7 linked regions of the Homo sapiens genome follow. The protein of the gene in region 6 purifies or fractionates together with the protein of the main gene of each other region. This does not show direct contact. Each region holds a gene or a part of one and is shown on either strand. Other genes may lie near its edges.

Region 1 (3,500 bases), on a different chromosome or scaffold from region 6:
TGTGAGTTAGAAACCAGTAAGAATGTTCTAGATTTTATATGCTTGTCTGTTGATGAAACATGGGCTTTTTCTGGCCTGATCCAAATTGCCATATGATGTTGTGAAATACTGGATTTTTAAATGATTGGATTATGCTTTTTGTTTATGTATTACTTAGGAAGATGATGTAGAACAGCCATTTAATGACAGTGGCTGTCTTCTTGTGGATAAAGACCTTTTTGAAACTGGGTTGGAGGATGAAAATAACTCTCCATTGGAAGATGAAGAGTCATTAGAATCAATAAGAGCAGCTGTAAAAAACAAAGTAAAAAAGCACAAGGCAAGTAAAGCATGATTGCAATAAGAGTTAATCAACTGCTTCTGACCTTTGCTATATTTTTAATTTACTGTTGGAACCTTAATTTTTTTTTTAACTGAAGAAAAACTTGTGTCAGTTGACTTAAGTGTTTCAGCTGTTAATTTTGGAGACTTGCAGTACAAGTGATAGACATGCTAACTTCTTTGGAAACTAGTGTTTTGTTATTACCCTTTTAGGAATGCTGAAAAAAAAAACCACTAAGATATTTGATGGTGTAGTAAGATGCAGGTAAATAATAGGGAAGAGATGTAAATTTTGCAATCCTATAGCCTTTGAGAAATGAACCCTATAGGGTTTCAGGAAGGGTATCAAAGAGAGGCATCAGTCAAAACATTGTTGTCCCGAGTGTTTGGAAGCATAATTTTTCTTCCTAAGATTTTTTTTTAGCTTCCTGCGAGTTATTATCCCTCTTTAGGGAAAGATGTAAGCAGAGGTAAAAGAAATAAGGGTCCAGACTCCATCTGAGGTATCTGTTTTCTAAGCATAATAGGATGCTGTGTGTTTAATAATTTCTAGTTGATGATTATTGATTTATTAATGTAGCATGATGTGGTGTTGGACTACAAAAGTAGTCTTCAGCTAAAGCATCCTCTTATTTGAATTTCGTTTTTGTCCTAATCAACCTGCCATTTCTTTTAGAAAAAAGAACCATCTTTGGAGAGTGGGGTCCATTCATTTGAGGAAGGAAGTGAGTTATCAAAAGGAACCACGAGGAAGGTGAGGTAGAGCCCTGTATATTAGTCACACTGATCTCTTTACACAGGAGATTATAGATTTCTTAGGGATAAATATTTTATTTTGTCTATCATATTTTTCTGTTACCCATCATATTGCTTTGTACATAGTAGGAACAAAATATGGATTGGATTGAACAAATTCTCTGAGACTTGGGAATAAATGAATTCCTTGAGTTTATACTGCATTTGGGCTTACTCATGCTTACTATTTCCTTTCCTCTTTTCTTGGAGAGAGCAAACTCTTGAGTGATGAATATCTATCTTTCTGGATATTCATATAATTAATGTAGTCTCACTTCTTGTTTTCTTTAAGGAAAGAAAGGCAGCCAGATTAAGTAAAGAAGCATTAAAACAACTGCATAGTGAGACTCAGCGCCTTATTCGAGGTAATGCAACCCAGTAAACTTTGAGGCAAAATCACAACATTTCTTTGTAAGCTCAACTTGGATGTTGGGGACTTTTATTTTTTTAACACTTCTAATGTGAACTCAGGTTATAATATTAAGTTTAGAATTGATCTTGGTGAAAGGCCATTGTTCTAAAGCCCTTGGAACATTAGTATAAACTGAAGAAATTTTCAGAACTGTAGTGCAGGTAAGGAGGAAATTTTTTAATGGTTGTCTATGGACTGATTGTGTCAGGATTCTTTGGAGAGGTAGTAATCCCTCCCTATTTGCAGTTTTGGTTACCTGTGTCAGCCATGGTCCATGGAACTTAAAAATATCATCCCTTTGTCCAGAGTATCACGCTGTATACATTACCTGCCTGTTAGTCCGTTAGTAGCCCTCTCAGTTATCAGATCAAAAAAACACTGCATGGTTTAGTACCATCTGCAGTTTCAGGCATCCACTGCAGGTCTTGGAATGTGTCTGTCTGGATAAGCGGGGACTACTGTATATAAATGTTTAGGTCCCACAGAGATTCTGATTCAGTAGATTCGAAATGGGATCCAAGAATCTGTATTTCTAAAAAACTTCCTGGATCATTTTGATTTCACATCTAGGTTTAAAAGCCACTGGTCTTCAGGGAGCTTTTTTGTACTTAGCTCCTCTGCCTTTGTTAAAGGGGAGTTTTCTATTTCTAGTGATGGCTTTGGTTATTATGTTTAGTTAACTGAATATGAAGTGACATTTCAGAATATACAGTATATATATTTGCTTGTTTTATTCCATTTTATAGAGTCTGCACTGAACCTTCCATATCATATGCCTGAGAATAAAACCATTCATGATTTCTTCAAACGTAAACCCCGGCCCACTTGCCACGGAAATGCCATGGCACTATTGAAGTAAGAACCCTCTTTCCTTATTATAATTTTCATGAACATTTAGTTTTGTAGCAAACATCTGGCATAAAAAGTTCAGATTTCTCACTCCCTTAAAACTGATTTAACTGATATATACTAAGGGATGAGAATGTTTCACATTTAGGATAATTTTCAACTCCAGCTCAATTTCTCTTCTCTAGGTCATCTAAATATCAGTCAAGCCATCACAAAGAAATCATAGACACTGCAAATACTACTGAAATGAACAGTGATCACCATAGTAAAGGTTCTGAGCAGACAACAGGTGCAGAAAATGAAGTGGAAACTAATGCACTCCCTGTAGTTTCAAAGGAAACCCAGATCATTACTGGATCAGATGAGTCTTGCAGGAAGGATTTGGTAAAAAATGAAGAGCTAGAAATTCAGGAGAAACAGAAGCAGAGTGACATTAGACCTTCACCTGGGGACAGCTCAGTGTTGCAACAGGAATCCAACTTCCTCGGGAACAATCACAGTGAGGAATGTCAGGTTGGAGGGCTTGTAGCATTTGAACCTCATGCCCTGGAGGGTGAAGGCCCCCAAAATCCAGAAGAAACAGATGAGAAAGTGGAAGAGCCTGAGCAGCAAAATAAATCATCAGCAGTTGGGCCACCTGAAAAAGTGAGACGGTTTACTCTGGATAGACTTAAGCAACTGGGAGTAGATGTTTCCATTAAACCACGGCTAGGTGCTGATGAAGATTCCTTTGTGATACTTGAACCTGAAACCAACAGAGGTAATCCTTTACATTGTGGGGAGCCTCCCTGGAGTGATTATCCTGGTAGCTTTTGATTATTGACTACTGTCGAGGACAGAGAACACAGGAGGAACCAATAACCACTTTGATCTTATCCTGCAGTTGTTCCAGATATGGGCAGAGTCTTTTTTAGAGAAATTTGGCAGGGTATCAGAATGATCTAAGCCATGTTTAAAATGGAAGTCTGTTGGCTGGGTGCGGTGGCTTACGCCTGTAATCCCAGCACTTTGGGAGGCCAAGGCGGGCAGATCACGAGGTCAGGAGTTTGAGACTAGCCTGGCCAATACAGTGAAACCCCGTCTGTACTAAAAATACAAAAATTAGCCGGGCATGGTGGCACGC
Region 2 (2,736 bases), on a different chromosome or scaffold from region 6:
GCACTCCTCAAAGCAAGATCTTCTGCCAGACCCCCAGGAAATGACTTATCAGTGATTTCTCAGGCTGTTTTCTCCTCAGTACCATCCCCCCAAAAAACATCACTTTTCATGCACAGGGATGCACCCACTGGCACTCCTGCACCTCCCACCCTTCCCCAGAAGTCCACCCCTTCCTTCCTCACCCTGCAGGAGCTGGCCAGCCTCATCACCCCAACATCTCCCCACCTCCATTCTCCAACCACAGGGCCCTTGTCTCCTCTGTCCTTTCCCCTCCCCGAGCCAAGCCTCCTCCCTCCTCCACCTCCTCCACCTAATACATATCCTTAAGTCTCACCTCCTCCAGGAAGCCCTCAGACTAACCCTGGTCACCTTGAATGCCTCGTCCACACCTCCAGACTTCCTCAGGGCCTGTGATGAGGTCTGCACCTCTGTGTGTACTTGTGTGATGGTTAGAGGACTGCCTACCTCCCAGAGGAGGTTGAATGCTCCAGCCGGTTCCAGCTATTGCTTTGTTTACCTGTTTAACCAGTATTTACCTAGCAAGTCTTCCATCAGATAGCATTTGGAGAGCTGGGGGTGTCACAGTGAACCACGACCTCTAGGCCAGTGGGAGAGTCAGTCACACAAACTGTGAGTCCATGACTTGGGGCTTAGCCAGCACCCACCACCCCACGCGCCACCCCACAACCCCGGGTAGAGGAGTCTGAATCTGGAGCCGCCCCCAGCCCAGCCCCGTGCTTTTTGCGTCCTGGTGTTTATTCCTTCCCGGTGCCTGTCACTCAAGCACACTAGTGACTATCGCCAGAGGGAAAGGGAGCTGCAGGAAGCGAGGCTGGAGAGCAGGAGGGGCTCTGCGCAGAAATTCTTTTGAGTTCCTATGGGCCAGGGCGTCCGGGTGCGCGCATTCCTCTCCGCCCCAGGATTGGGCGAAGCCTCCCGGCTCGCACTCGCTCGCCCGTGTGTTCCCCGATCCCGCTGGAGTCGATGCGCGTCCAGCGCGTGCCAGGCCGGGGCGGGGGTGCGGGCTGACTTTCTCCCTCGCTAGGGACGCTCCGGCGCCCGAAAGGAAAGGGTGGCGCTGCGCTCCGGGGTGCACGAGCCGACAGCGCCCGACCCCAACGGGCCGGCCCCGCCAGCGCCGCTACCGCCCTGCCCCCGGGCGAGCGGGATGGGCGGGAGTGGAGTGGCGGGTGGAGGGTGGAGACGTCCTGGCCCCCGCCCCGCGTGCACCCCCAGGGGAGGCCGAGCCCGCCGCCCGGCCCCGCGCAGGCCCCGCCCGGGACTCCCCTGCGGTCCAGGCCGCGCCCCGGGCTCCGCGCCAGCCAATGAGCGCCGCCCGGCCGGGCGTGCCCCCGCGCCCCAAGCATAAACCCTGGCGCGCTCGCGGCCCGGCACTCTTCTGGTCCCCACAGACTCAGAGAGAACCCACCATGGTGCTGTCTCCTGCCGACAAGACCAACGTCAAGGCCGCCTGGGGTAAGGTCGGCGCGCACGCTGGCGAGTATGGTGCGGAGGCCCTGGAGAGGTGAGGCTCCCTCCCCTGCTCCGACCCGGGCTCCTCGCCCGCCCGGACCCACAGGCCACCCTCAACCGTCCTGGCCCCGGACCCAAACCCCACCCCTCACTCTGCTTCTCCCCGCAGGATGTTCCTGTCCTTCCCCACCACCAAGACCTACTTCCCGCACTTCGACCTGAGCCACGGCTCTGCCCAGGTTAAGGGCCACGGCAAGAAGGTGGCCGACGCGCTGACCAACGCCGTGGCGCACGTGGACGACATGCCCAACGCGCTGTCCGCCCTGAGCGACCTGCACGCGCACAAGCTTCGGGTGGACCCGGTCAACTTCAAGGTGAGCGGCGGGCCGGGAGCGATCTGGGTCGAGGGGCGAGATGGCGCCTTCCTCGCAGGGCAGAGGATCACGCGGGTTGCGGGAGGTGTAGCGCAGGCGGCGGCTGCGGGCCTGGGCCCTCGGCCCCACTGACCCTCTTCTCTGCACAGCTCCTAAGCCACTGCCTGCTGGTGACCCTGGCCGCCCACCTCCCCGCCGAGTTCACCCCTGCGGTGCACGCCTCCCTGGACAAGTTCCTGGCTTCTGTGAGCACCGTGCTGACCTCCAAATACCGTTAAGCTGGAGCCTCGGTGGCCATGCTTCTTGCCCCTTGGGCCTCCCCCCAGCCCCTCCTCCCCTTCCTGCACCCGTACCCCCGTGGTCTTTGAATAAAGTCTGAGTGGGCGGCAGCCTGTGTGTGCCTGAGTTTTTTCCCTCAGCAAACGTGCCAGGCATGGGCGTGGACAGCAGCTGGGACACACATGGCTAGAACCTCTCTGCAGCTGGATAGGGTAGGAAAAGGCAGGGGCGGGAGGAGGGGATGGAGGAGGGAAAGTGGAGCCACCGCGAAGTCCAGCTGGAAAAACGCTGGACCCTAGAGTGCTTTGAGGATGCATTTGCTCTTTCCCGAGTTTTATTCCCAGACTTTTCAGATTCAATGCAGGTTTGCTGAAATAATGAATTTATCCATCTTTACGTTTCTGGGCACTCTTGTGCCAAGAACTGGCTGGCTTTCTGCCTGGGACGTCACTGGTTTCCCAGAGGTCCTCCCACATATGGGTGGTGGGTAGGTCAGAGAAGTCCCACTCCAGCATGGCTGCATTGATCCCCCATCGTTCCCACTAGTCTCCGTAAAACCTCCCAGATACAGGCACAGTCTAGATGAAATCAGGGGTGCGGGGTGCAACTG
Region 3 (3,500 bases), on a different chromosome or scaffold from region 6:
TAAAGCTAGAATACCAATGGGATGTGGGGAGGATTATGGTTCCCTTCGTGGGAACTTCATATTTTCTATAGTGGAGGGGGGTCTTTTTTTTTTTTTTTTTTTTGAGATGGGGTCTTGCTCTGTTGCACAGGCTGGAGAGTAGTGGCACGATCACAGCTCACTGTAGTCTCTACCTCCTGGGCTCAGGTGATCCTCCTGCCTTAGCCTCCAGAGTATCTGGGACCACAGGTGCACACCACCATGCCTGGATAATTTTTTAATTTTTTGTAGAGACTGAGTCTCGCTAAATTGCACAGCCTGGACTTAAACTGCTGACCTCAAGTGATCCTCCTGCCTTGGCCTCCCAAAGTGCTAGGATTACAGTAGTGAGCCACTGTGTCCAGCACCATGCCTAGTTCTTTTTCTAGTGATTTTTTTTTTAAAGGATAGTCTTTGCAAGTCTCTTACTGCTTAAAAATGGAACCAAATTAATTTAGCTCTGCTTCTGCCCATGCACCTGTAGCACCACTTTCAGTCAGGGCTCAGCAACCTAAGGTATTTATGAGAAACCTGGCATGAGGGCAATTTTCACTTGCCTACAGGTTGGTTGTTGTAGCTCATCCTTCAAGGCGAAATTCAAATGTGACCTTCTCTGGGAAGCTTGCCCTGCCTACCCATTTTTGCCCTACCTAGTAAAATTAATTGCTACCTTCTCTATAATCCTTATGTCATCTCTGAGTACTTGTCACACTGTATAATAGTAACTCTCTGGTGAGGCTAAACTCTGAGGGTAGGGAACCTGGTCTAACCAGCTTTGTCTTACTCTGTAGTGCCAGGTATACTCTACAATGTTCAGTTGTTTTTAGGATGGGGAGACAAAGTGAAACTGCCAGATGCTAACATTTAAGGCATCTGACATCTTAGTTTTTAATGTTTTTATTTATTTTAAATACATAGCAAGGGCAACCTAGAGACATTCTGTAGTTAGCTAATGGGATGAACCAAGACCCCTGGATTCTACTCCAGGCTCTGCCATGAAATCCATCCCTTCTCTCCAGGTCTCAATTTCTCTCTGCATCTGTAAAATAAGGAGGTGCCACTACCAATCTATCTCACTCCTGACTCCTGCACTTGATACAAGAATGGTTGAAATTCAGATTTCACCTCACTTAAGAAAAACATAATTTTTTCTCACCAGAAGCCTGATCTTTATCGTTAAAGTGGTGCTTTATTGGGTGCTGCTTTAATTAAGAATGAGACAAAGACATATCTCAAAGCCAATTTAATAGCAAAGTCTTCCAAGTTACCTATCAATTTCTTACATTATCCTAGGGAACACTGTGTGATAGCACAAAGATAATGGTAATATGTACTATATTTTGAAGACTACAAAAGAAGATGAGTATTTTGATTCTCCATTTCCTTCTCCTTCTAAATAAATGCCATCAGCTTATTTCTGCTTATATTTGTCTTCATCAAAATGTTAAGGTGGCACTGATTTTTCCCTTATTTATTAAAATAGCTTTCCCAGACCAGGCGCAGTGGTTCACGCCTATAATCTCAGCACTTTGGGAGGCTGAGGCAGGTGGATCATGAGGTCAGGAGATTGAGACCATCCTGGCTAACACGGTGAAACACCATCTCTACTAAAAATACAAAAAATTAGCTGGGTGTGTTGGCACGCGCCTGTAGTTCCGCTACTCCGGAGGCTGAGGCAGAATTGCTTGACCCTGGGAGGCGGAGCTTGCAGTGAGCCAAGATCGCACCACTGCACTCCAGCCTGGGTGACAGAGCGAGACTCCGTCTCAAAAAAAAAAGAAAATTAATTAAAAAAAAAAATAGAGGACTGGCGCAGTGGCTCACGCCTGTAATCCCAGTACTTTGGGAGGCTGAGGCGGGTGGATCACGAGGTCAGGAGATCGAGACCATCCTGGCTAACATAGTGAAACCCCATCTCTACTAAAAATACAAAAATTTAGCTGGGCGTGGTGGTGGGCGCCTGTAGTCCCAGCTACTCGGGAGGCTGAGGCAGGAGAATGGCGTGAACCCGGAGGCGGAGTTTGCCGTGAGCTAAGATCGTGCCACTGCACTCCAGCCTAGGCAACAAAGCAAGACTCCATCTCAAAACAAACAAACAAACAAAAAACAAAAAAAAAGGCTTTCCCCTTTTGTTGCCTAGTATCTGCCAAAAGGCTTTCAACTAAGCCTGAAAGCTTGAGGCAGGTAGAATTTACTGAGTGCCTTCTTGGAGGCTGAGTTCTGATGGGTACATGTGTTCTTCAATGCTAAAGGTAACCCTTAAGTTATGATAGGCATTGTTCTTCCCTTTACAAAGAAACAGGCCCAGCTGTCAAAATTTTGTCAAAAATTATCCTTTTCTAAGCAGGAGCCCTAGTACTTTAACCCAGGTTAGTCCCCACCTGGCTCTACAGTGCCTCCTTCCCAAGACCATCAGCCTGGGACTGGCCACCTTAGAGCCAGGTCACTGCCCTAAAAAATGATTGGCTGCAGACCAATGGGCTCCCACTCTGCAGCAGGTACTTCACACACATTAGCTCTGGCTCCTTCAGTTTAGCAAGGGAGATATCTGACCCCATCTTACAGCTGAGGAAACTAGGTTTTTTTGGTTTTTTTGGAGACAGAGTCTCAACTCTGTCTCCCAGGCTGGAGTGCAGTAGCACAATCTCGCTGCAACCTGTCTCCTGGATTCAAGCAATTCTCCTGCCTCAGCCTCTCCAGTAGCCGGGAGTACAGGCATGCGTCAACACACCCAGCTAATTTTTGTATTTTCAATATAGACAGGGTTTCACCATGTTGGCCAGGCTGGTCTCAAACTCCTGACCTCAAATGATCCACCCGCCTTGGCCTCCCAAAGTGCTGGGATCACAGGCGTGAGCCACCGTACTCATCCTGAAACTAAGTTTGAGAGAAGGCAAATCACAAACAACTGACCTGGGAAGGCCTAATACCATGATGAAGAAGGTAGGCTCTGATGCCCAGAAGCATCTTGCTTTACTCTTGACTTCACTACTTATTTCCATGGTGACTACCTTAAGTGTCCTTGAGTTACTTAAGCCCTCTGAGCCTCCATTTGCTCATCTATGAAATGGGCATAAAAAAGTACCTACACTGCACAAGGTCATTAGGAGATGAAGGATTACACAGACAAAATACACTCACCACTGTGTTTAGGACATAATTGCTCAATAAATGAGACCTCTCATTTTTCTACCACGTTTCTTATTTCTGGGGAACTCTTTCATGTACACAGTCCTCTTACAGGATAACTTCAGACTTTTCTGTTTAGTGTGGCAGGCAGAACGAGTTAGGGAAACAGTATGATCTACACTTAGTGAATCCTCACTTAAGCAGTTGCAGGGGCTGGGCATGGTGGCTCACACCTATAATCCCAGCACTTTGGGATGCCGAGGCGGGTGATCACCTGAGGTCAGGAGTTCGAGACCAGCCTGGGCAACATGGTGAAACCCCATCTCTACTAAAAATAGAAAAAATTACCCAGG
Region 4 (3,500 bases), on a different chromosome or scaffold from region 6:
AACAGTAACTCATACTCAGACATTAAGTTACAATTTTCTAAAAGACAAAGTTGGTTTGATTTTTGTTTTTTAATTAAACAAATATCTGAGAATGAAAATAAAGAGGGTGAAGGACACCTCGGGAAATCATAAACTTTATAGGGATCCAATGTGCCGTTTATTAGCCCATCAAAGACTTGGCTTGTGCCAGGTCAGTAGGGCACAGATAGTTTTTAAAAATTAAAAGCAGTAGAGATGAGAAGAGATGAGAAATCCCCCCATGCTATGTTCTTCTGGTAGCAAGATAATGCAGTTCAAGTTGGGTCTTGCAGTACTTGGTACTTTTATGCAAAAATGATGCTTTGTAGAATGAGGCACCAACTGTTATTCAATTAAAAATGTATGAAATCAGGCATTTAATGAAATTTTAGAGGTAGTAATTCCATGGTTAGCTTTCAGAAGATGTATTAATAGTTCAATATAACTTTACTCATAACTGAGCCAGAAAAGAAAAGAATTAGCCTTTATAAAGAATGTCATTACCCACACTAGACCCCTGAGAGGTGGTACCTTACCCAAGCCTTTCCTTGCTCTCTTCTGGTGTCAGCTGATCAAAGGTCTTTGCTTCTTCAGCACCCAAGAAGGCATCATGGTCATAATCAAAACTCTGAGCATCATTGTGAACCTTGTCACTGAGCTGAGGCTCATGATGTACACGGTCCTTCTTTTCTGTGGGTTTGCTCAAGGCAAAGGCTGTGCACAGGGACAGGCACATAAGAAACTGTCGCAGGTCCATGATAATTAGATCTTGAAGAAAATGAAAAGCAGTTAATTCAGGAGGCAGTATGCTTAATAACTAAATAAGAAATTAAAAGCTCACATCCGAGTTAAACTATTAATTTGATATACATATCTATGCAAGTCTTTTATATTATCCCAAATATTACTTCATCCATAAAATAAGTATGGTGGAATATCAGACTCTTCAATTATTACAGTGAGAAATTTTTACCAGTTTCCTTCATCTGATTGTAGGCTGATAAGAAACTTATAGTTAAAATGTCCACTTTCTGTTTTCTTTCAAAAGATACCAAAGTAGAATTTTAATCCTTTTGCCCAAGTTCATAAGAATTAAAAGTGAAAGAACCAAGGTTTAAATGTTGACTCCAAATCCTTTACTTCTTGTACGCATTGGTGGTCTGGTCTTCAAACATGGCTGGTTATTAGAATCATCTAGGAAGCTTTAAGTTTCTCCTATTGATTTAGAGTCTCTGAAGCTGAATTCAGACATTCGTAGCTTTAAATGTTTTTCAGGTGATTCTGATGTTCATGAGATTAGGAACCAGCGAAATACTTGGCAGCTTCCTTGGTCTATAGCACCAAGTCTCCAACATCCAGGCTCAACCTTGAGTCACCTTCAAAGGCCAAATCATTCAGATGGTCTAGTCATAGATAAGAACGTCTTTATCCTTCTGCACAGTTGTTTCCCATACTTGCCTAGGCATAAATACCACCTGTAGTACTGTTCAAAGTACAGATTCCCAGGCCCTGATTCAAACTTTCAGAATCTCTGTAGTCACAGGTGACTCTAATGAACAAGCACAAAGCTGGAACACTTGACTGAAAAATGTGACAAAAAACCTGCAAAGAAGCTGCAGAGTACACATCTGTTTAGCACACTCTACTGATACCCCGTGATACTATCCAGAGTGGTTAAGGTCTTAGAGGGAAAAAAAAAAATTAAAAATCAAGAAGAAGGGTTTTCAGGCTTTTACATTTTTTCTTTCATCACTGGGAAGGCAGCTCAGTGGGGGAGGGTGGGAGGTCCTGAAATGGCAGAGGAGGACATATCAGTAGAGAGTGGAAAGTGTTCTAGAGTAAATACGACAACACAGTAAGACAAACAGAAAAGTACCTAAGGAGATAATGGGGGCGGGGGTTGGGGGGCAGTCATTCCCAAGTGCCCCAGTCTCAAATAAGGTACTGTTACTGATGACGTGAAGGTTAAGACTTAGGAAAATCCATCAGAAGAAGCAATGTGAAAGCAAGACCATGAAACCCATAGAGAAATGGGTAGAAGATGGTACTTATTACTCTATTCCTATCAATGTTAGAACTTGGCTATGTTTCTCAACATTGTTTCATTCAATCCCATCAAAATACCCACATTTACAGACAAAGATACTTGTATTAAGATGTTCAATGATGACAGTTCACAATGATTAAAAAATCGGAAAACAAATAAAAACAGAGAATTGGTAAAATATATTAAATCTCGATTATGGAAAAATACACAAAGGTTAAAAAGAATGGGCCGGGCGCAGTGGCTCATGCTTGTAATCCCAGCACACTGGGAGGCCGAGGCGGGTGGATCACAAGGTCAGGAGATCGAGATCATCCTGGCTAACACGGTAAAACCCCGTCTCTACTACAAATACAAAAAATTAGCCGGGCGTGGTGGTGGGTGCCTGTAGTCCCAGCTACTTGGGAGGCTGTGGCAGGAGAATGGCGTGAACCCAGGAGGCAGAGCTTGCAGTGAGCCGAGATAGCACCTCTACACTCCAGCCTGGGCTACAGAGTGAGACTCCGTCTCAAAAAAAAAAAAAAAAAAAAAAAAGAATGACATGAGGCCGGGGGTGGTGGTTCACGCCTGTAATCCCAAGACTTTGGGAGGCTAATGCAGGCGGATCACTTGCATCCGGGAGTTTAAGACAAGCCTGGGTGATAGCGAAACACTGTCTCTACTAAAAATACAAAAATTAGCTGGGCATGGTGGCATACACCTGTAGTCTCAGCTACTCAGGAGGCTGAGGTGGGAGGATAGCTTGAACCCACCAGGTGGAGGTTGCAGTTAGCTGAGATTGTACCACTGCACTCCAGCGTGGGTGACAGAGATCCTATCTCAAAAAAAATAAAAAAAGCAGCCAGGCATGGTGGCTCATGCCTGTAATCCCAGCACTTTGGGAGGCCGAGGCGGGAGGATCACTTGAGGTCAGGAGTTCGAGACCACCCTGGGAAATACGGTGAAACCCTGTCTCTACTAAAAATACAAAACTTAGCTGGGTGTGGTGGCACACGCCTGTAGTCCCAGCTACTCAGGAGGCTGAGGCACGAGAAGTACTGGAACCCGGGAGGCAGAGGCTGCAGTGAGCTGAGATCTCACCACTGCACTTCAGTGACAGAGCGAGACCCTTCCTCAAAAAAAAGAATGTAAAAAAAAAAAAAGAACGAGATGCATCTATCTGCAGTGAAATGGAAAATTCACCAAGATATGTCAAGTGAACAAAAAAAGCAAGGTTCAAAACAACGTCAAGATCTCATTTACATAAAAAGCAAAACAAAATTAAACAATCTCCCCAGCTTGTTTTTATTTGTATAAAATATAACATGCACATAAATGGTGTGCAAAGACAAATACCCATGTGTAAACAGTGGTAACCTCAAGGTTCATGGGAGAAGAGACAGGAATGGGGTGGGCTGGTAAGATTGGTGTGAAAGTGAACTTTAATACTGTATCCTGC
Region 5 (3,500 bases), on a different chromosome or scaffold from region 6:
ATGTTTTGAATAGATTTTTTAGTTTTATTGAAATCTTACATGAACAAGAAATTGGAAATACAATCACATCAAAGAACAAATTGTCACGGCTTTTGACGTTTAAGCCAAACAAATTTTGTAGGGCAGATTTCAAAAAGGTGTGAAGTTATAACAATTTAAAAACACAGTTAACCTACTTCTAGGAATGCAAAACATACAATCATAGGTTATTTTCAATACAAGAAAACTTAAATTTGTTTGCTTTAATTTCTTAAAACTACTAAGACAAAGCACTAGCTTGTATTTTTATTTACAGCATACTCCATACTCCTATGTAATCTATCCCAAATCCAAAAAAATGAAACTGTCCAAAACCAAAGGTTCTGCAAAATCATGATTTAACAGTGTGCCCAGCTTGTTTTGAAGCTAAAATGAAGCCTGAAACGATAAAAGCATTGTAATCCCCAGAATAAGGGAACTCTGCAAGCCCAATAATGTCCAAGAGCATTTATGAAAAGAGGAAAAATAAAAAGACTTGAGTATATACACAATAGTGATTTCTTCAGCCCAATACAAATGGCAGCAAAATGCTACTTAAAGATGAAACAGTTAAGCCAATTTTTTTTTTTGAAGAATGTAGATCTAGAGCCAATCGTATCTTGCCAGTATCATTTTCAAGCCCTTACTTGTCTACTTCCACTGTTGCCCATAAGTATCCTGATAAAATTCCTGGTTGTCATTATTGTAACCATAGTTACCAGAATAGTCACCACCTTGCTGAAGCGGCTGCTGAGCGATGGGTTGGGAACCCCAGTTCTGTTGGTTGTTGGTCTGACGACGCTTGGAATCAGGCTGGTTGTACCCATCTGCCTTTCTCTTGCCTCCTACATTGCCCCCACGATTGCCCCGAGATCCACGGGAACCACGGCCTCTCTGCTGTTGAGCAGGACCCCCTCTGCCACCCCTAGAGCCTCTTGGTGGTCCCAAAGGTGCCCCCCTCTGTGAATAGCCAGCTCTACCTCTTGGAGGTGGTGCTCCCCTCCCCCTTGGTGGTGGTGGAGCACCTCGCCCTCCCCTTCCTCCTCCTCTTCCTCTTACTGCATAGCCATCATCATAGCCGTAGTAGGGATCTTCATAGCCTCCACGATAGTCGTGATAATCATAACCATAGTAATCATCATAGTAATCTTCATAGCCGTAGTAATCTGGAGGGTAGCCATATCCACCTCTCCCCCCACCACGACCCCGACCTCTAATTGGAGGTGGCATGCGAGGAGGAGGGTGGTAGTAATAATCTTCATACCTAGCAAAGTAGAGAAGGGAGAAAAGAAAAAACAAATCAGTTTGCTTCAAGACTCTGATTTTGTTTTATTAATCTGATCTCCATTATCACGTTATTCCTTGTCCAAAGATATATCTACTAAAATGTAGACTCACGCAGTGCTTCTGGAGGCCTGTCTAGCAGCTTGGCGCTCTTTCCTTTTCTTGTCTGGTGGCTTGGCTAAGACTATTTCAATTTCTTCCCCTTCTATTTCTTTGCCATTCATTTCATCCATAGCCTATAAAAAATTAGAAAAATTATTTTACAACGATATAAAACTGTATTTTGTTTTATATAGTATGTAAGCTATTATACTTGTGTAATTTAATACACTTAACAATTTACTTCACAATTATTTTAAATGGCAAAAGGTGAATCTAGCCAGAAAGTTAAACACAAACACACAAAGAAAATACGTTTCCCTTGACCTTATCTTTTTATACATAAATTACATTTAGAACAAAACCGACCACCTGATATTATATTTTAAAAGGTAAAAGGGCTGCCACCTATTGCTGCTCCTTAATTCCAAATAACTCCTTAAAAGATAAGCCATACCAAAGAAGCAAATCCATACCGGGGAAAAATGCCAGTATTAATACGAGCCAGACAAAGATTAACTTCTCAGGATTAGAATTTTAAAATAAACATGTAGCATACAACATACAGGTCTTCCACTGTTCTTATACGACAATTTCAAGGATTTGAAGCACAAATGAGGTTACTGAGTGAGATTATCTGTAAAATTCAAGAAGATACTAACACAAAAAAGCCTAGGTTTCCCTCACAATGCTTAACCCAAAATGTACTTTGCTTGAACAGTTAAAAGTACAGAGCCAGAAAAGGCCTGGACTAATGAAGACTCAAGCAATTATGTAGAAAGCAGTAATCAAACATTCCATGTTCTAGCCCTTTGTTCACGTTGTTCCACCTAACAACCTCTGCCATACATCAAAAGGTTCAGGTACTCAGTAACAAAATGTCACCTCCTCATGATATTTTATTTTTTGTTTCCCTATACCTTTCCCCACTCTGGGCACACATAAAAAAATGTTCTATTGGAGCTATCAGTGATTTATAAGTATCTAGACAAAAACGAAACTAGTCCTCAAGACTGCAATTTTCCCTTTTACCACCTCAGCTTTGCGTTGCTTCAGTTAAAGCAACTAAACAAGTTTACAAAAGCTTCCTGGCATAAATTAAAAAATGAAACATCTACCCTCTGCCCTGACCATCCTGGTGACTCCCAGTTCCTGGACTAGATATTTTATAATTTCATAGGCTTCTTTGGCAAACCATCCTATAAATATTTTCAATCAGGACAACCAGTTATTTGAAACCAGTCGAGTCAGGAGGAATATTTAGACAGCATAAAATTATTAGTTATCTGCATTCTATACCAGTGAAATTTCAGAAGCCACAAATGAACGGATAAGAGTATAACAGCATAACAGATAAGACTCCATACTTCAAAGCCAGATTATTACTGAGTTTGTGATCTTGGACAAGTTATGAATTTTATGAACAATACTGCCTCATTAATTAGCTACCATCAATGAGCAAGCCAATTAATTATAAACCAATCAGGGATTCTATAAAGCCTGTTTTAAAAGCAGTAGCCTGGGCAAAAAACAAAACCAAAAAATGCTCAGATTAGAGATGGCAGTATCCCACCGACCAAACATGCAGAAAAAGAACCATGCCTGTGTCACTAAGCATTCTGGATCTATCTTCCTAATAACATAAATAAGATTTTAGTAGTGTTTTGTCTTGCTCCCACCCCCCCAAGGAAGGAGAGATGAATAAAAAAAAGAAACTGAAAATTTCACCCATTAAAGATAGTCCTAAACCATTGTCGATAGAAAGCAGGTTTTGTGTTCCAGATACCATATGAAAATACTTTCTTCAAACTTTTCATTATCATCAAAGACTAAATCAACTATTATACACAAGTGATATCTCTAACAATTACCGAAATCAGTAAAACATAGTGAATGCTATTTTAACTCTAAAATGATTAAATAAAGGTAAAACTAATCATACCCTCAAAATCTATCTACTCAATTAAACATGGTATACTGTATGAGTCATGTACACCACTCAGTTTCCTTCATAGGTACACAAACTGAGGTCAACTAAGTAGTTATAATGCATTCATTACCTATTCAGTGTTTACAGCAGCTAATTTTTATACCTTGTA
Region 6 (4,276 bases):
GTAAATGGAGTTTACAACTCTAAGAAAGTGCATTAACAATTTATACACAAGGCCGGGCGCGGTGGCTCACGCCTGTAATCCCAGCCCTTTGGGAGGCCGAGGCGGGAGGATCACGAGGTCAAGAGAGATCGAGACCATCCTGGCCAACATGGTGAAATCCTGTCTCTACTAAAAATACAAAAATTAGCCGGGCGTGGTGGCGGGCGCCTGTAGTCCCAGCTACTCGGGAGGCTGAGGCAGGAGAATTACTTGAACCTGGGAGGCAGAGGTTGCAGTGAGCCGAGATCGTGCCAATGCACTCCAGCCTGGCGACAGAGCAAGACTCCATTTCAAAAAAAAAAAAAAAAATTTATACACAAAATGCTACAGGAATAACGCATGGGTCCTATTGGGAAGAAAAAGTTCTCTAGAAGTCAGGCTTAAGCAGAACTGCAGCTCCGGGACGGATTAAGTCAGGTAAAGGTAACACTCTGTGCAGAGACATGCAGACAAAACCGAGTGTTGAGTAAGTAACTCGCCTGTAAGTGTTATGCTGCCTGAAGCTTCTCGGAGCGTCTGAGCAGCAAGGTGAACAACCCTCAGAAACCGGTCGCGCTGCCAGTATTATCGCTAACCAGTGGCAGCGAGCCCCTTTGTTTCTCGGCAGTTGTAATTGTAGTCTGGTTTGTAGGTGGAGCTGTGCGCAGGCGCACCTAGAACCAGGTGACCTTGCACATGCGCTGTATGTAACACTGAAGCCAAAAGCGAAATGATTGAGGGCAATTTTTCTTTTCTGCTTCCGAAATGTCCCTTTCGCGAATCCAGAGACCCTGACCGTCCCCATTTCTGGCTAGGGATCTTATAATTCTTAAAATAATACCCCCTTTCCTTCAGGGCCTCTCTAGTAAGTCGGCTGCCAATACCCAACATGGCGGGAGGCCCTGCGCCGGCTCAGTCTGCCTATAGGTGCAGGACTTGGAGGGGCGGGCCCCTCCCAAAGGGCGGGAGTTTGGGGGGGCGGGGCCTGGCCCTCTGCCTCGGGGTGGGCTCCGCCCCCGTCCCCCGCAGGGCCTTAGCAGCGGCTGCCGCAGCTCAATCGCGGAGCAACTAGCCGGGCGTCTGCGGGAGCCGAGCGTGGTGAGGTGGGGCCTCAGGGGCAGGTGGGAGGTGCTCGGGTTAACCGTCCGAGGCCCGGAGACCCGCCCGTCTAGGGCGCCTGAGGGAATCCCGTTCGGGCAGCGGCCTCTTGTTACCCGGGAGGAACCCGAGGCCCAGAGAGGGGCTGGGACGCGTCGTTAGGGCCCGGGGCCCGCTTGCCTCAGCTTCTTGCTGCCGCCAGCACGCTAAGCTCCAGTCGGCGCCGAAGGAGAGCTTCCCGACCCTCGTGTCCAGTAGCCGCAATCCCAGGCTGGGAGGGTGAGGCGCCGCGCTCTGCCGCCCCCCCGCCCCTCGCTCCCTGTGTCCTGGCGGATTTGCACGTAATCTATCCGAAAGCCCAGTCCCACCCGCCACCCGACTCTGGAGCTCCCATTCTTCAGGACCCTGCTGAAGTATCGCTTCTCAGCCGCCTTCTCCAGGCGCAGCTGCATTCGCTTCTCGGTTTTTGCACTCGCTGTGCACCGAGTTACTTTCCCGGCCCCTCGTTGACACCGTAAGCTCGTTCGTTAGATGTTATGCCTTGCCTTTTTCATCTCTAGATCCCAGGGCCTAGCACGTGATGATAATAGTCATGGCTTACTGTACGGAATGATCACAAATTGTCAGGTGCTACTGAATGCATTACACATAAGGGCCCATTTATTTATTTATTTAGAGACGGAGTTTCGCGCTTGTTGCCCAGGCTGGAGTGCAATGGCGCGATCTCGGCTCACCTCAACCTCCGCCTCCCGGGTTCAAGCGATTCTCCTGCCTCAGCCTCCCAAGTAGCTGGGATTGCAGGCATGCGCCACCACACCCGGCTAATTTTATGTTTTTAGTAGAGACGGGGTTTCTCCATGTTGGTCAGGCTGATCTCGAACTCCCGACCTCAGGTGATCCGCCCGCTTCGGCCTCCCAAAGTGCTGGGATTACAGGCGTGAGCCACCGCGCTCAGCCAAAGGCCTATTTAATCTTCCCAACAATCCTATGGGGTGAGTTCTTTCTATAGCTTCACGTTTTACCCATGAAGAAACTGAGGTATTCATAGAAAAAGTAATTTGCCAGGAGTCCCACAACTAATAAGTGGATGGAGCTGGGAAACTGTCCCCAGGGCATTTGATGACTTGACTAGATTGCCTTTGGGTTTAATCAACGTCTGTTGAATTGATCTTTACTTTGGCCCTGGGAGTTATTGGAGGCTAGGCTTGTGATCAGTATTTTACCGCGAAGGCTTAGAAAGGAGAACTGGTCCCAGATTTATAGAGGTCACAACAAAACCAAGGCTACTGGTACGCCCTCTGTTCCTTTAGTTCTTCTATCTTTCTTTGCTCCTTTTCGATCAGAAAGCTGCAGACATAGGTGTCATTATCGCTCACTATTTAAGAAGTGCCCCTCACAGAGCTGTGAGTTCGTAGTCCATGCTTTAACTAATGTAATGTTCATGCTTTAACAGCTAATGTAATGGAGAGAGTGTAGAATTTGGAATCAGATTGGGGTTCAGTCATTGCTCTGCCACTGACCAAGCTATAAGTTATATGCCTCCCCCCACTTTTTTTTTTTTTTTTGAGACCTGGTCTCAGTCACCCAGGCTGGAGTGCAGTGGTGCGATCTGGGTTCACTGGAACATCCTGTCTCCCAGGTTCAGGCGATTCTCCCGCCTCAGCCTCCTGAGTAGCTGGGATTACAGGCGCCCGCCACCGTGCCTGGCTAATTTTTGTATTTCTAGGAGAGATGGGGTTTTGCCATGTTGGCCAAGCTGGTCTCGAACTCCTGGCCTCAAATGATCTGCCCAACTCAGCCTCCCAAAGTGCTGGGATTACAGTTGTGAGCCACCACACCCAGCCTGTTTTTTTGCTTTTTATATAGGTAATAGAGCTGTTAGCATTTTGCAAGACCATTGGTGATAATATGGATCATGTTACCTAATGTCCTATAATAGTCAGTAATAATGGGCACTTGTTATAAACCAGGCTGTGTTTTAGGTAGGAGCTGGGAATACAGCATTCGATAAAACAATGCTTTTGCACTTGTGGAATTTGCATTTTGGTAAGTATATTACATAATAATTAGATAGGGACAGAAAAAGCATGGTAAGGTAAATAAAAGTACTAGTGTTATGTGGAGAGGTGATAGTATTTTATTTATTTATTTATTTGAGCATCTTGTCCCAGGCTGGAGTGCAGTGGCGTGATCACAGCTCACTGCAGCCTCGAACTCCTTGGCTCAAGCAGCCCTCCCACCTTAACTTCCCAAGTAGCTGGGACTACAGGTGAATGCCACACAGCCAGCAATTTTTTTTTTTTTAATAGAGATGGGAATCTCCCTGTGTTGCCCAGGCTGGTCTTGAACTCCTGGCCTCAAGAGATCCTCCCACCTTGGTGAAACTCTGTCTCTACTAAAAATACAAAAAAATTAGCTGGTCGTGGTGGCACATGCTTGTAATCCCAGCTACTCAGGAGGCTGAGACATGAGAATTGCCTGAACCGGGGAGGCAGAGGTTGCAGTGAGCTGAGATCATGCCAGTGCACTACAGCCTGGGTAACAGAGCCAGATCCTGTCTCAAAAACAAAACAAAACACTGGATGAGATTACCTTGGAAATTAATGGAGATGGAGAAGAGGTCTGAAGCCTTGAGGTTTCCAAACTTTAGATACTGGGGAGATGAGAAAAGGCAGCAAAGGAGACTGAGTGGGAGAGGCCAGAGGTTGGAAGAGAGCAACAGAGAGGCCCCACATGAGATTTAAATAAGGAGCTGCATGCTAATTTGTTTTTTTCAGGAGTAAGAAACAAATTATGTCTGTACACAAATGTCTATACTGTAGTTTCTTTCTCAGTAAATAAAATGTTTGTGTCCTCAAGTATTTTTCTGTTTTTGCTTTAAGTGACAAATTCTATTTAATACCATTCTGCATCTTAGTCCTTGTAGCATTTATGCCTCTATTCCAAGTTTAGGTGGTAGTGTTGCTTCTCTTTTAAACTTTATTTAAATACTCCTTTTGTAGTATTTTGGATGAGAGAGGATCAAATACATAATTTATCTCACTCTTCTGTCACTTTCCACTCCAGGTTCACAGGTGGCTGTTGGTCTTTAGTAAGGGTGCTGTCTTCCCTGTCTGATCCTTAGCAAAAGTAGGAAGGTAGGTCTTGTTCATTTCTGTAC
Region 7 (3,058 bases), on a different chromosome or scaffold from region 6:
AAAGTAGTAAATAACCTCAACATCATTTACTGAATAGTTCAAACCCTTCTCTACTGACTTGTGATGCCATTTTTTAAATACATATATATATACATTGCTCTGTTCCTAGGTTCTCGGTTCTATACCTGTGATTATTCCTGTGTGAACAGCACATTTACCCTAACTCCATGGATTGTTTTGAGATGTAATCAAAATTGCTTTATGCCTGATGACTTTCAGATTAATGTTATAATCAGGTTATTACATCCATTTAAAAAGCTTTACTGTGGTTATATGAAATTGCTTTGAATTTATAAATTAATTTGGTAGAACTATTTATTATGTTGGGTCTTATACATGGCATACCTCTATTTTTGTGTTTCTTTTATACCCTCTAGCATAGATTTATCCTTTTATTTATATAGGCCTTACATTTCTCTTGTTAATCTTATTTCTAGATAATATTTACTTCTCGCAGCTATTGTGGATGAGAGTCTATTTCCTCATACATTTTCTAATTGGTTATTGCTGGTGTACACACTTTTCATACCGGTGTGTTGGTGTTGTGCACAGCCTCCTTATTCAGCTTTATTAGCTGTAATAGCATGCCAGTAGATCATCACAGGGGGTTTTTTGTCCAAAAAAAAAAAGACCCCATATTTACAAATAACGAGAGCCTTGTCTCATTTCCCAAAATGTGTACTTTTTAGTACCGTTTTTATCTTAGCAAAAACTTTTCACCAAGTTTGTTTCCTGTGGATTTCTGTTAGGTATATTTAATGAAGCCAAGAAGCTAAGCTAAGGAAGTTTCCTTCTATTTCGAGATTGTTAAGAATACCAGAGGATGTTGAATTTATCACATACTCTTTCAGCTTGTGAAGATGACTATACTTCTTTAATCTGTTAATTTAGTGAGCTACAGTGAGTTACTCTTCACTCAATCTTGCATGTTTTGGTACAAATCTTCCTTGAAAATGATATATCTTTTGCTACAATGCTGAATTCAAACTGCTAGTTTTATTTTGGATTTTTTGCACCTACATTAATTGAATTTGGTTTAGTTTTCCTTGTGTTTTATTTGTGCAGTTTGCTATAAGGATTACGCTAACCGTATGGAATGAATTAGGGAGCCTTACATCTCTTTTCTATCCTCTGGAATGGTTTACAAATAAATGTGCCCCTGGAAGGTTTTTCTTTTTCTCTTCTTGAGTCGGAGTCTCACTCTTGCCCAGGCTAGAGAGCAGTGGTGGCATGATCACAGCTCACTGCAGCCTCGAATCCCGGCCTCAAGCGATCCTCCCACTTCAGCCTCCTGAGTGGCTGGGACTACATGCACGCACCACCATGCCTGGCTAAGTTTTGGGTTTTTTTGTTTTGTTTTGTTTTTTAATTTTTGTAGAGATGAGGTCTTGCCCAGGCTGGTCTCAAACTGCTGGTCTCAGCAATGTTCCCACTTTGGTGTCCCAAAGTGCTGGGATTACAGACATGAGCCACCACACCTGGCCCCTTTAAAGTTTTTCTAACTGTATTTTTTTTTTTTTTTTTTTGGAGACAGAGTTTCCCTCTTGTCTCCCAGGCTAGAGTGCAACGGTGTGACCTCAGCTCACTGCAACCTCTGCCTCCCAGGTTCAAGCGACACTCATGCCTCAGACTCCTGAGTAGTTGGGATTACAAGTGCCCGCCACCAAGCCCGGCTAATTTTTGTATTTTTAGTAGAGACGGGGTTTCACCATGTTGGCCAGGCTGGTCTTGAACTCCTCATCTCAGGTGATCCGCCCACCTCGGCCTCCCAAAGTACTGGTATTACAGGCATGGGCCACCGCACCTGGCCTCTTTTTAAAAATAAGTTCTTGTCCTATTTTTTCAATTTCTCCTAAGATGTTTCGTTTATTTACATTTTCTATTTTTTATCAATTTTTACAATCCATATTTTTAAACAGTCACATTTCATCTAGTCTTTCAAATTTATTGGTTTAACACTACACAATTATTTATAGTAAATTATAAAAGTGCTCATAATTAAAAATATCTCTTCTAGTTGTAGGTATCCTTCTAAAATTATTCCTAATGCTGGCAATTTTTGTTAATTACTTCTTGCTTTTTTTTCTTTATCATATTTTACAAAGGTTTATCTTTCATTTTTAAAAACCTGTGTTTCACTGATCAAAATTTGCTATTTTATTCATTTCTGCTTTTACCAATTCCTCACCTTTCTTTTGGTTTATCTCTTTCTTAGCTTTAAATGTTTAATTCATCTCTTTTGTCTTCTTTCTTCCTGGAAAGTAAATCAAAATCTATACAATTTCCTCTAACACCTCTTTGGTAGAATTCCTCAGCTTTAGAGAAGTTTTTATTAATTCTAAATAATTTGCAATTTATTTTGATTTCTCCTTTAAATGAGTTATTTAGAAGATCATTTAAAAATTTCCAAGTGGACAGGCCTTTTGTTACTATTATTACATTATACAGAGCACATGATCTGTATGATCTTTGAATTTTGTAAGTTTTTTACCTTCATAGGAATCATTTATATGAATGTTCTATTGGTTTTCCAGGAGAATATACTTTGTATTCATCATGGATACAAAATATTTATGTTCAATGGTATCCTTCATATCCTGATCTACTGATGGGCAAGAGGGATGAATTTTTTAAGCTCTAATATTATTATAGAGTAAAACTAATTTTTTTGAGAGTATGCAGTTCTATAAATTTTAACATATGTATAGACTCACGTTACCACCACCGCAATCAGGATACAGAACTGTTCATCACCAAAACAAACAAACAAACAAACTCCCTTGTACAGCCTCTTTGTAATCAACTCCTCCCAACCCCAACACCTGGCAATCTCCAATCTGTTCTGTCACTATAGTTTTGTCTTTTCAAGAATGCCATATAAATGGAATCATACAGAATGTAGCCTTCCGAGACTGGCTTTTTCACTCAGCATATGATGTTGAGATTCATCCGAATTGTGGCATGTTTGCCACCATATGGATACATCGCTATCCATTCACCTGTTGGAAGACATCTTGGTCACTATGAATGGAGCTGCTATAAATATCCACGCACAGGT

What was found.
Region 1: the proteins of CEP250 (region 6) and CLSPN purify together in Homo sapiens (affinity purification with mass spectrometry, with the first as the bait; one large-scale study listed by BioGRID). This does not show direct contact.
Region 2: the proteins of CEP250 (region 6) and HBA1 purify together in Homo sapiens (affinity purification with mass spectrometry, with the first as the bait; one large-scale study listed by BioGRID). This does not show direct contact.
Region 3: the proteins of CEP250 (region 6) and EIF4ENIF1 purify together in Homo sapiens (affinity purification with mass spectrometry, with the first as the bait; one large-scale study listed by BioGRID). This does not show direct contact.
Region 4: the proteins of CEP250 (region 6) and CALU purify together in Homo sapiens (affinity purification with mass spectrometry, with the first as the bait; one large-scale study listed by BioGRID). This does not show direct contact.
Region 5: the proteins of CEP250 (region 6) and HNRNPR purify together in Homo sapiens (affinity purification with mass spectrometry, with the first as the bait; one large-scale study listed by BioGRID). This does not show direct contact.
Region 7: the proteins of CEP250 (region 6) and CEP78 purify together in Homo sapiens (affinity purification with mass spectrometry, with the first as the bait; one large-scale study listed by BioGRID). This does not show direct contact.

The regions. Positions count from the first base shown.
Region 1 is NC_000001.11:35,759,979-35,763,478, reverse strand, and holds part of CLSPN (claspin), read left to right. Parts: intron 1-157; coding exon 158-319; intron 320-997; coding exon 998-1,075; intron 1,076-1,408; coding exon 1,409-1,481; intron 1,482-2,274; coding exon 2,275-2,383; intron 2,384-2,562; coding exon 2,563-3,137; intron 3,138-3,500.
Region 2 is NC_000016.10:175,287-178,022, forward strand, and holds HBA1 (hemoglobin subunit alpha), read left to right. Parts: upstream 1-1,393; 5' UTR 1,394-1,430; coding exon 1,431-1,525; intron 1,526-1,642; coding exon 1,643-1,847; intron 1,848-1,996; coding exon 1,997-2,125; 3' UTR 2,126-2,236; downstream 2,237-2,736. UniProt on the Homo sapiens protein: Involved in oxygen transport from the lung to the various peripheral tissues.
Region 3 is NC_000022.11:31,458,843-31,462,342, forward strand, and holds part of EIF4ENIF1 (eukaryotic translation initiation factor 4E transporter), read right to left. Parts: intron 1-3,500. UniProt on the Homo sapiens protein: EIF4E-binding protein that regulates translation and stability of mRNAs in processing bodies (P-bodies). Plays a key role in P-bodies to coordinate the storage of translationally inactive mRNAs in the cytoplasm and prevent their degradation.
Region 4 is NC_000007.14:128,745,859-128,749,358, reverse strand, and holds part of CALU (calumenin isoform a precursor), read right to left. Parts: intron 1,807-3,500; exon of another isoform or gene 1,005-1,806; coding exon of another isoform or gene 992-1,004; intron 787-991; coding exon of another isoform or gene 776-786; coding exon 555-775; intron 1-554. UniProt on the Homo sapiens protein: Involved in regulation of vitamin K-dependent carboxylation of multiple N-terminal glutamate residues. Seems to inhibit gamma-carboxylase GGCX. Binds 7 calcium ions with a low affinity.
Region 5 is NC_000001.11:23,309,785-23,313,284, forward strand, and holds part of HNRNPR (heterogeneous nuclear ribonucleoprotein R), read right to left. Parts: intron 1,539-3,500; coding exon 1,417-1,538; intron 1,283-1,416; coding exon 670-1,282; 3' UTR 1-669. UniProt on the Homo sapiens protein: Component of ribonucleosomes, which are complexes of at least 20 other different heterogeneous nuclear ribonucleoproteins (hnRNP). hnRNP play an important role in processing of precursor mRNA in the nucleus.
Region 6 is NC_000020.11:35,454,122-35,458,397, forward strand, and holds the start of CEP250 (centrosome-associated protein CEP250), read left to right. Parts: upstream 1-1,476; 5' UTR 1,477-1,630; intron 1,631-4,182; 5' UTR 4,183-4,253; intron 4,254-4,276. UniProt on the Homo sapiens protein: Plays an important role in centrosome cohesion during interphase. Recruits CCDC102B to the proximal ends of centrioles. Maintains centrosome cohesion by forming intercentriolar linkages.
Region 7 is NC_000009.12:78,274,075-78,277,132, reverse strand, and holds part of CEP78 (centrosomal protein of 78 kDa), read right to left. Parts: 3' UTR 1-3,058. UniProt on the Homo sapiens protein: Centriole wall protein that localizes to mature centrioles and regulates centriole and cilia biogenesis. Involved in centrosome duplication: required for efficient PLK4 centrosomal localization and PLK4-induced overduplication of centrioles.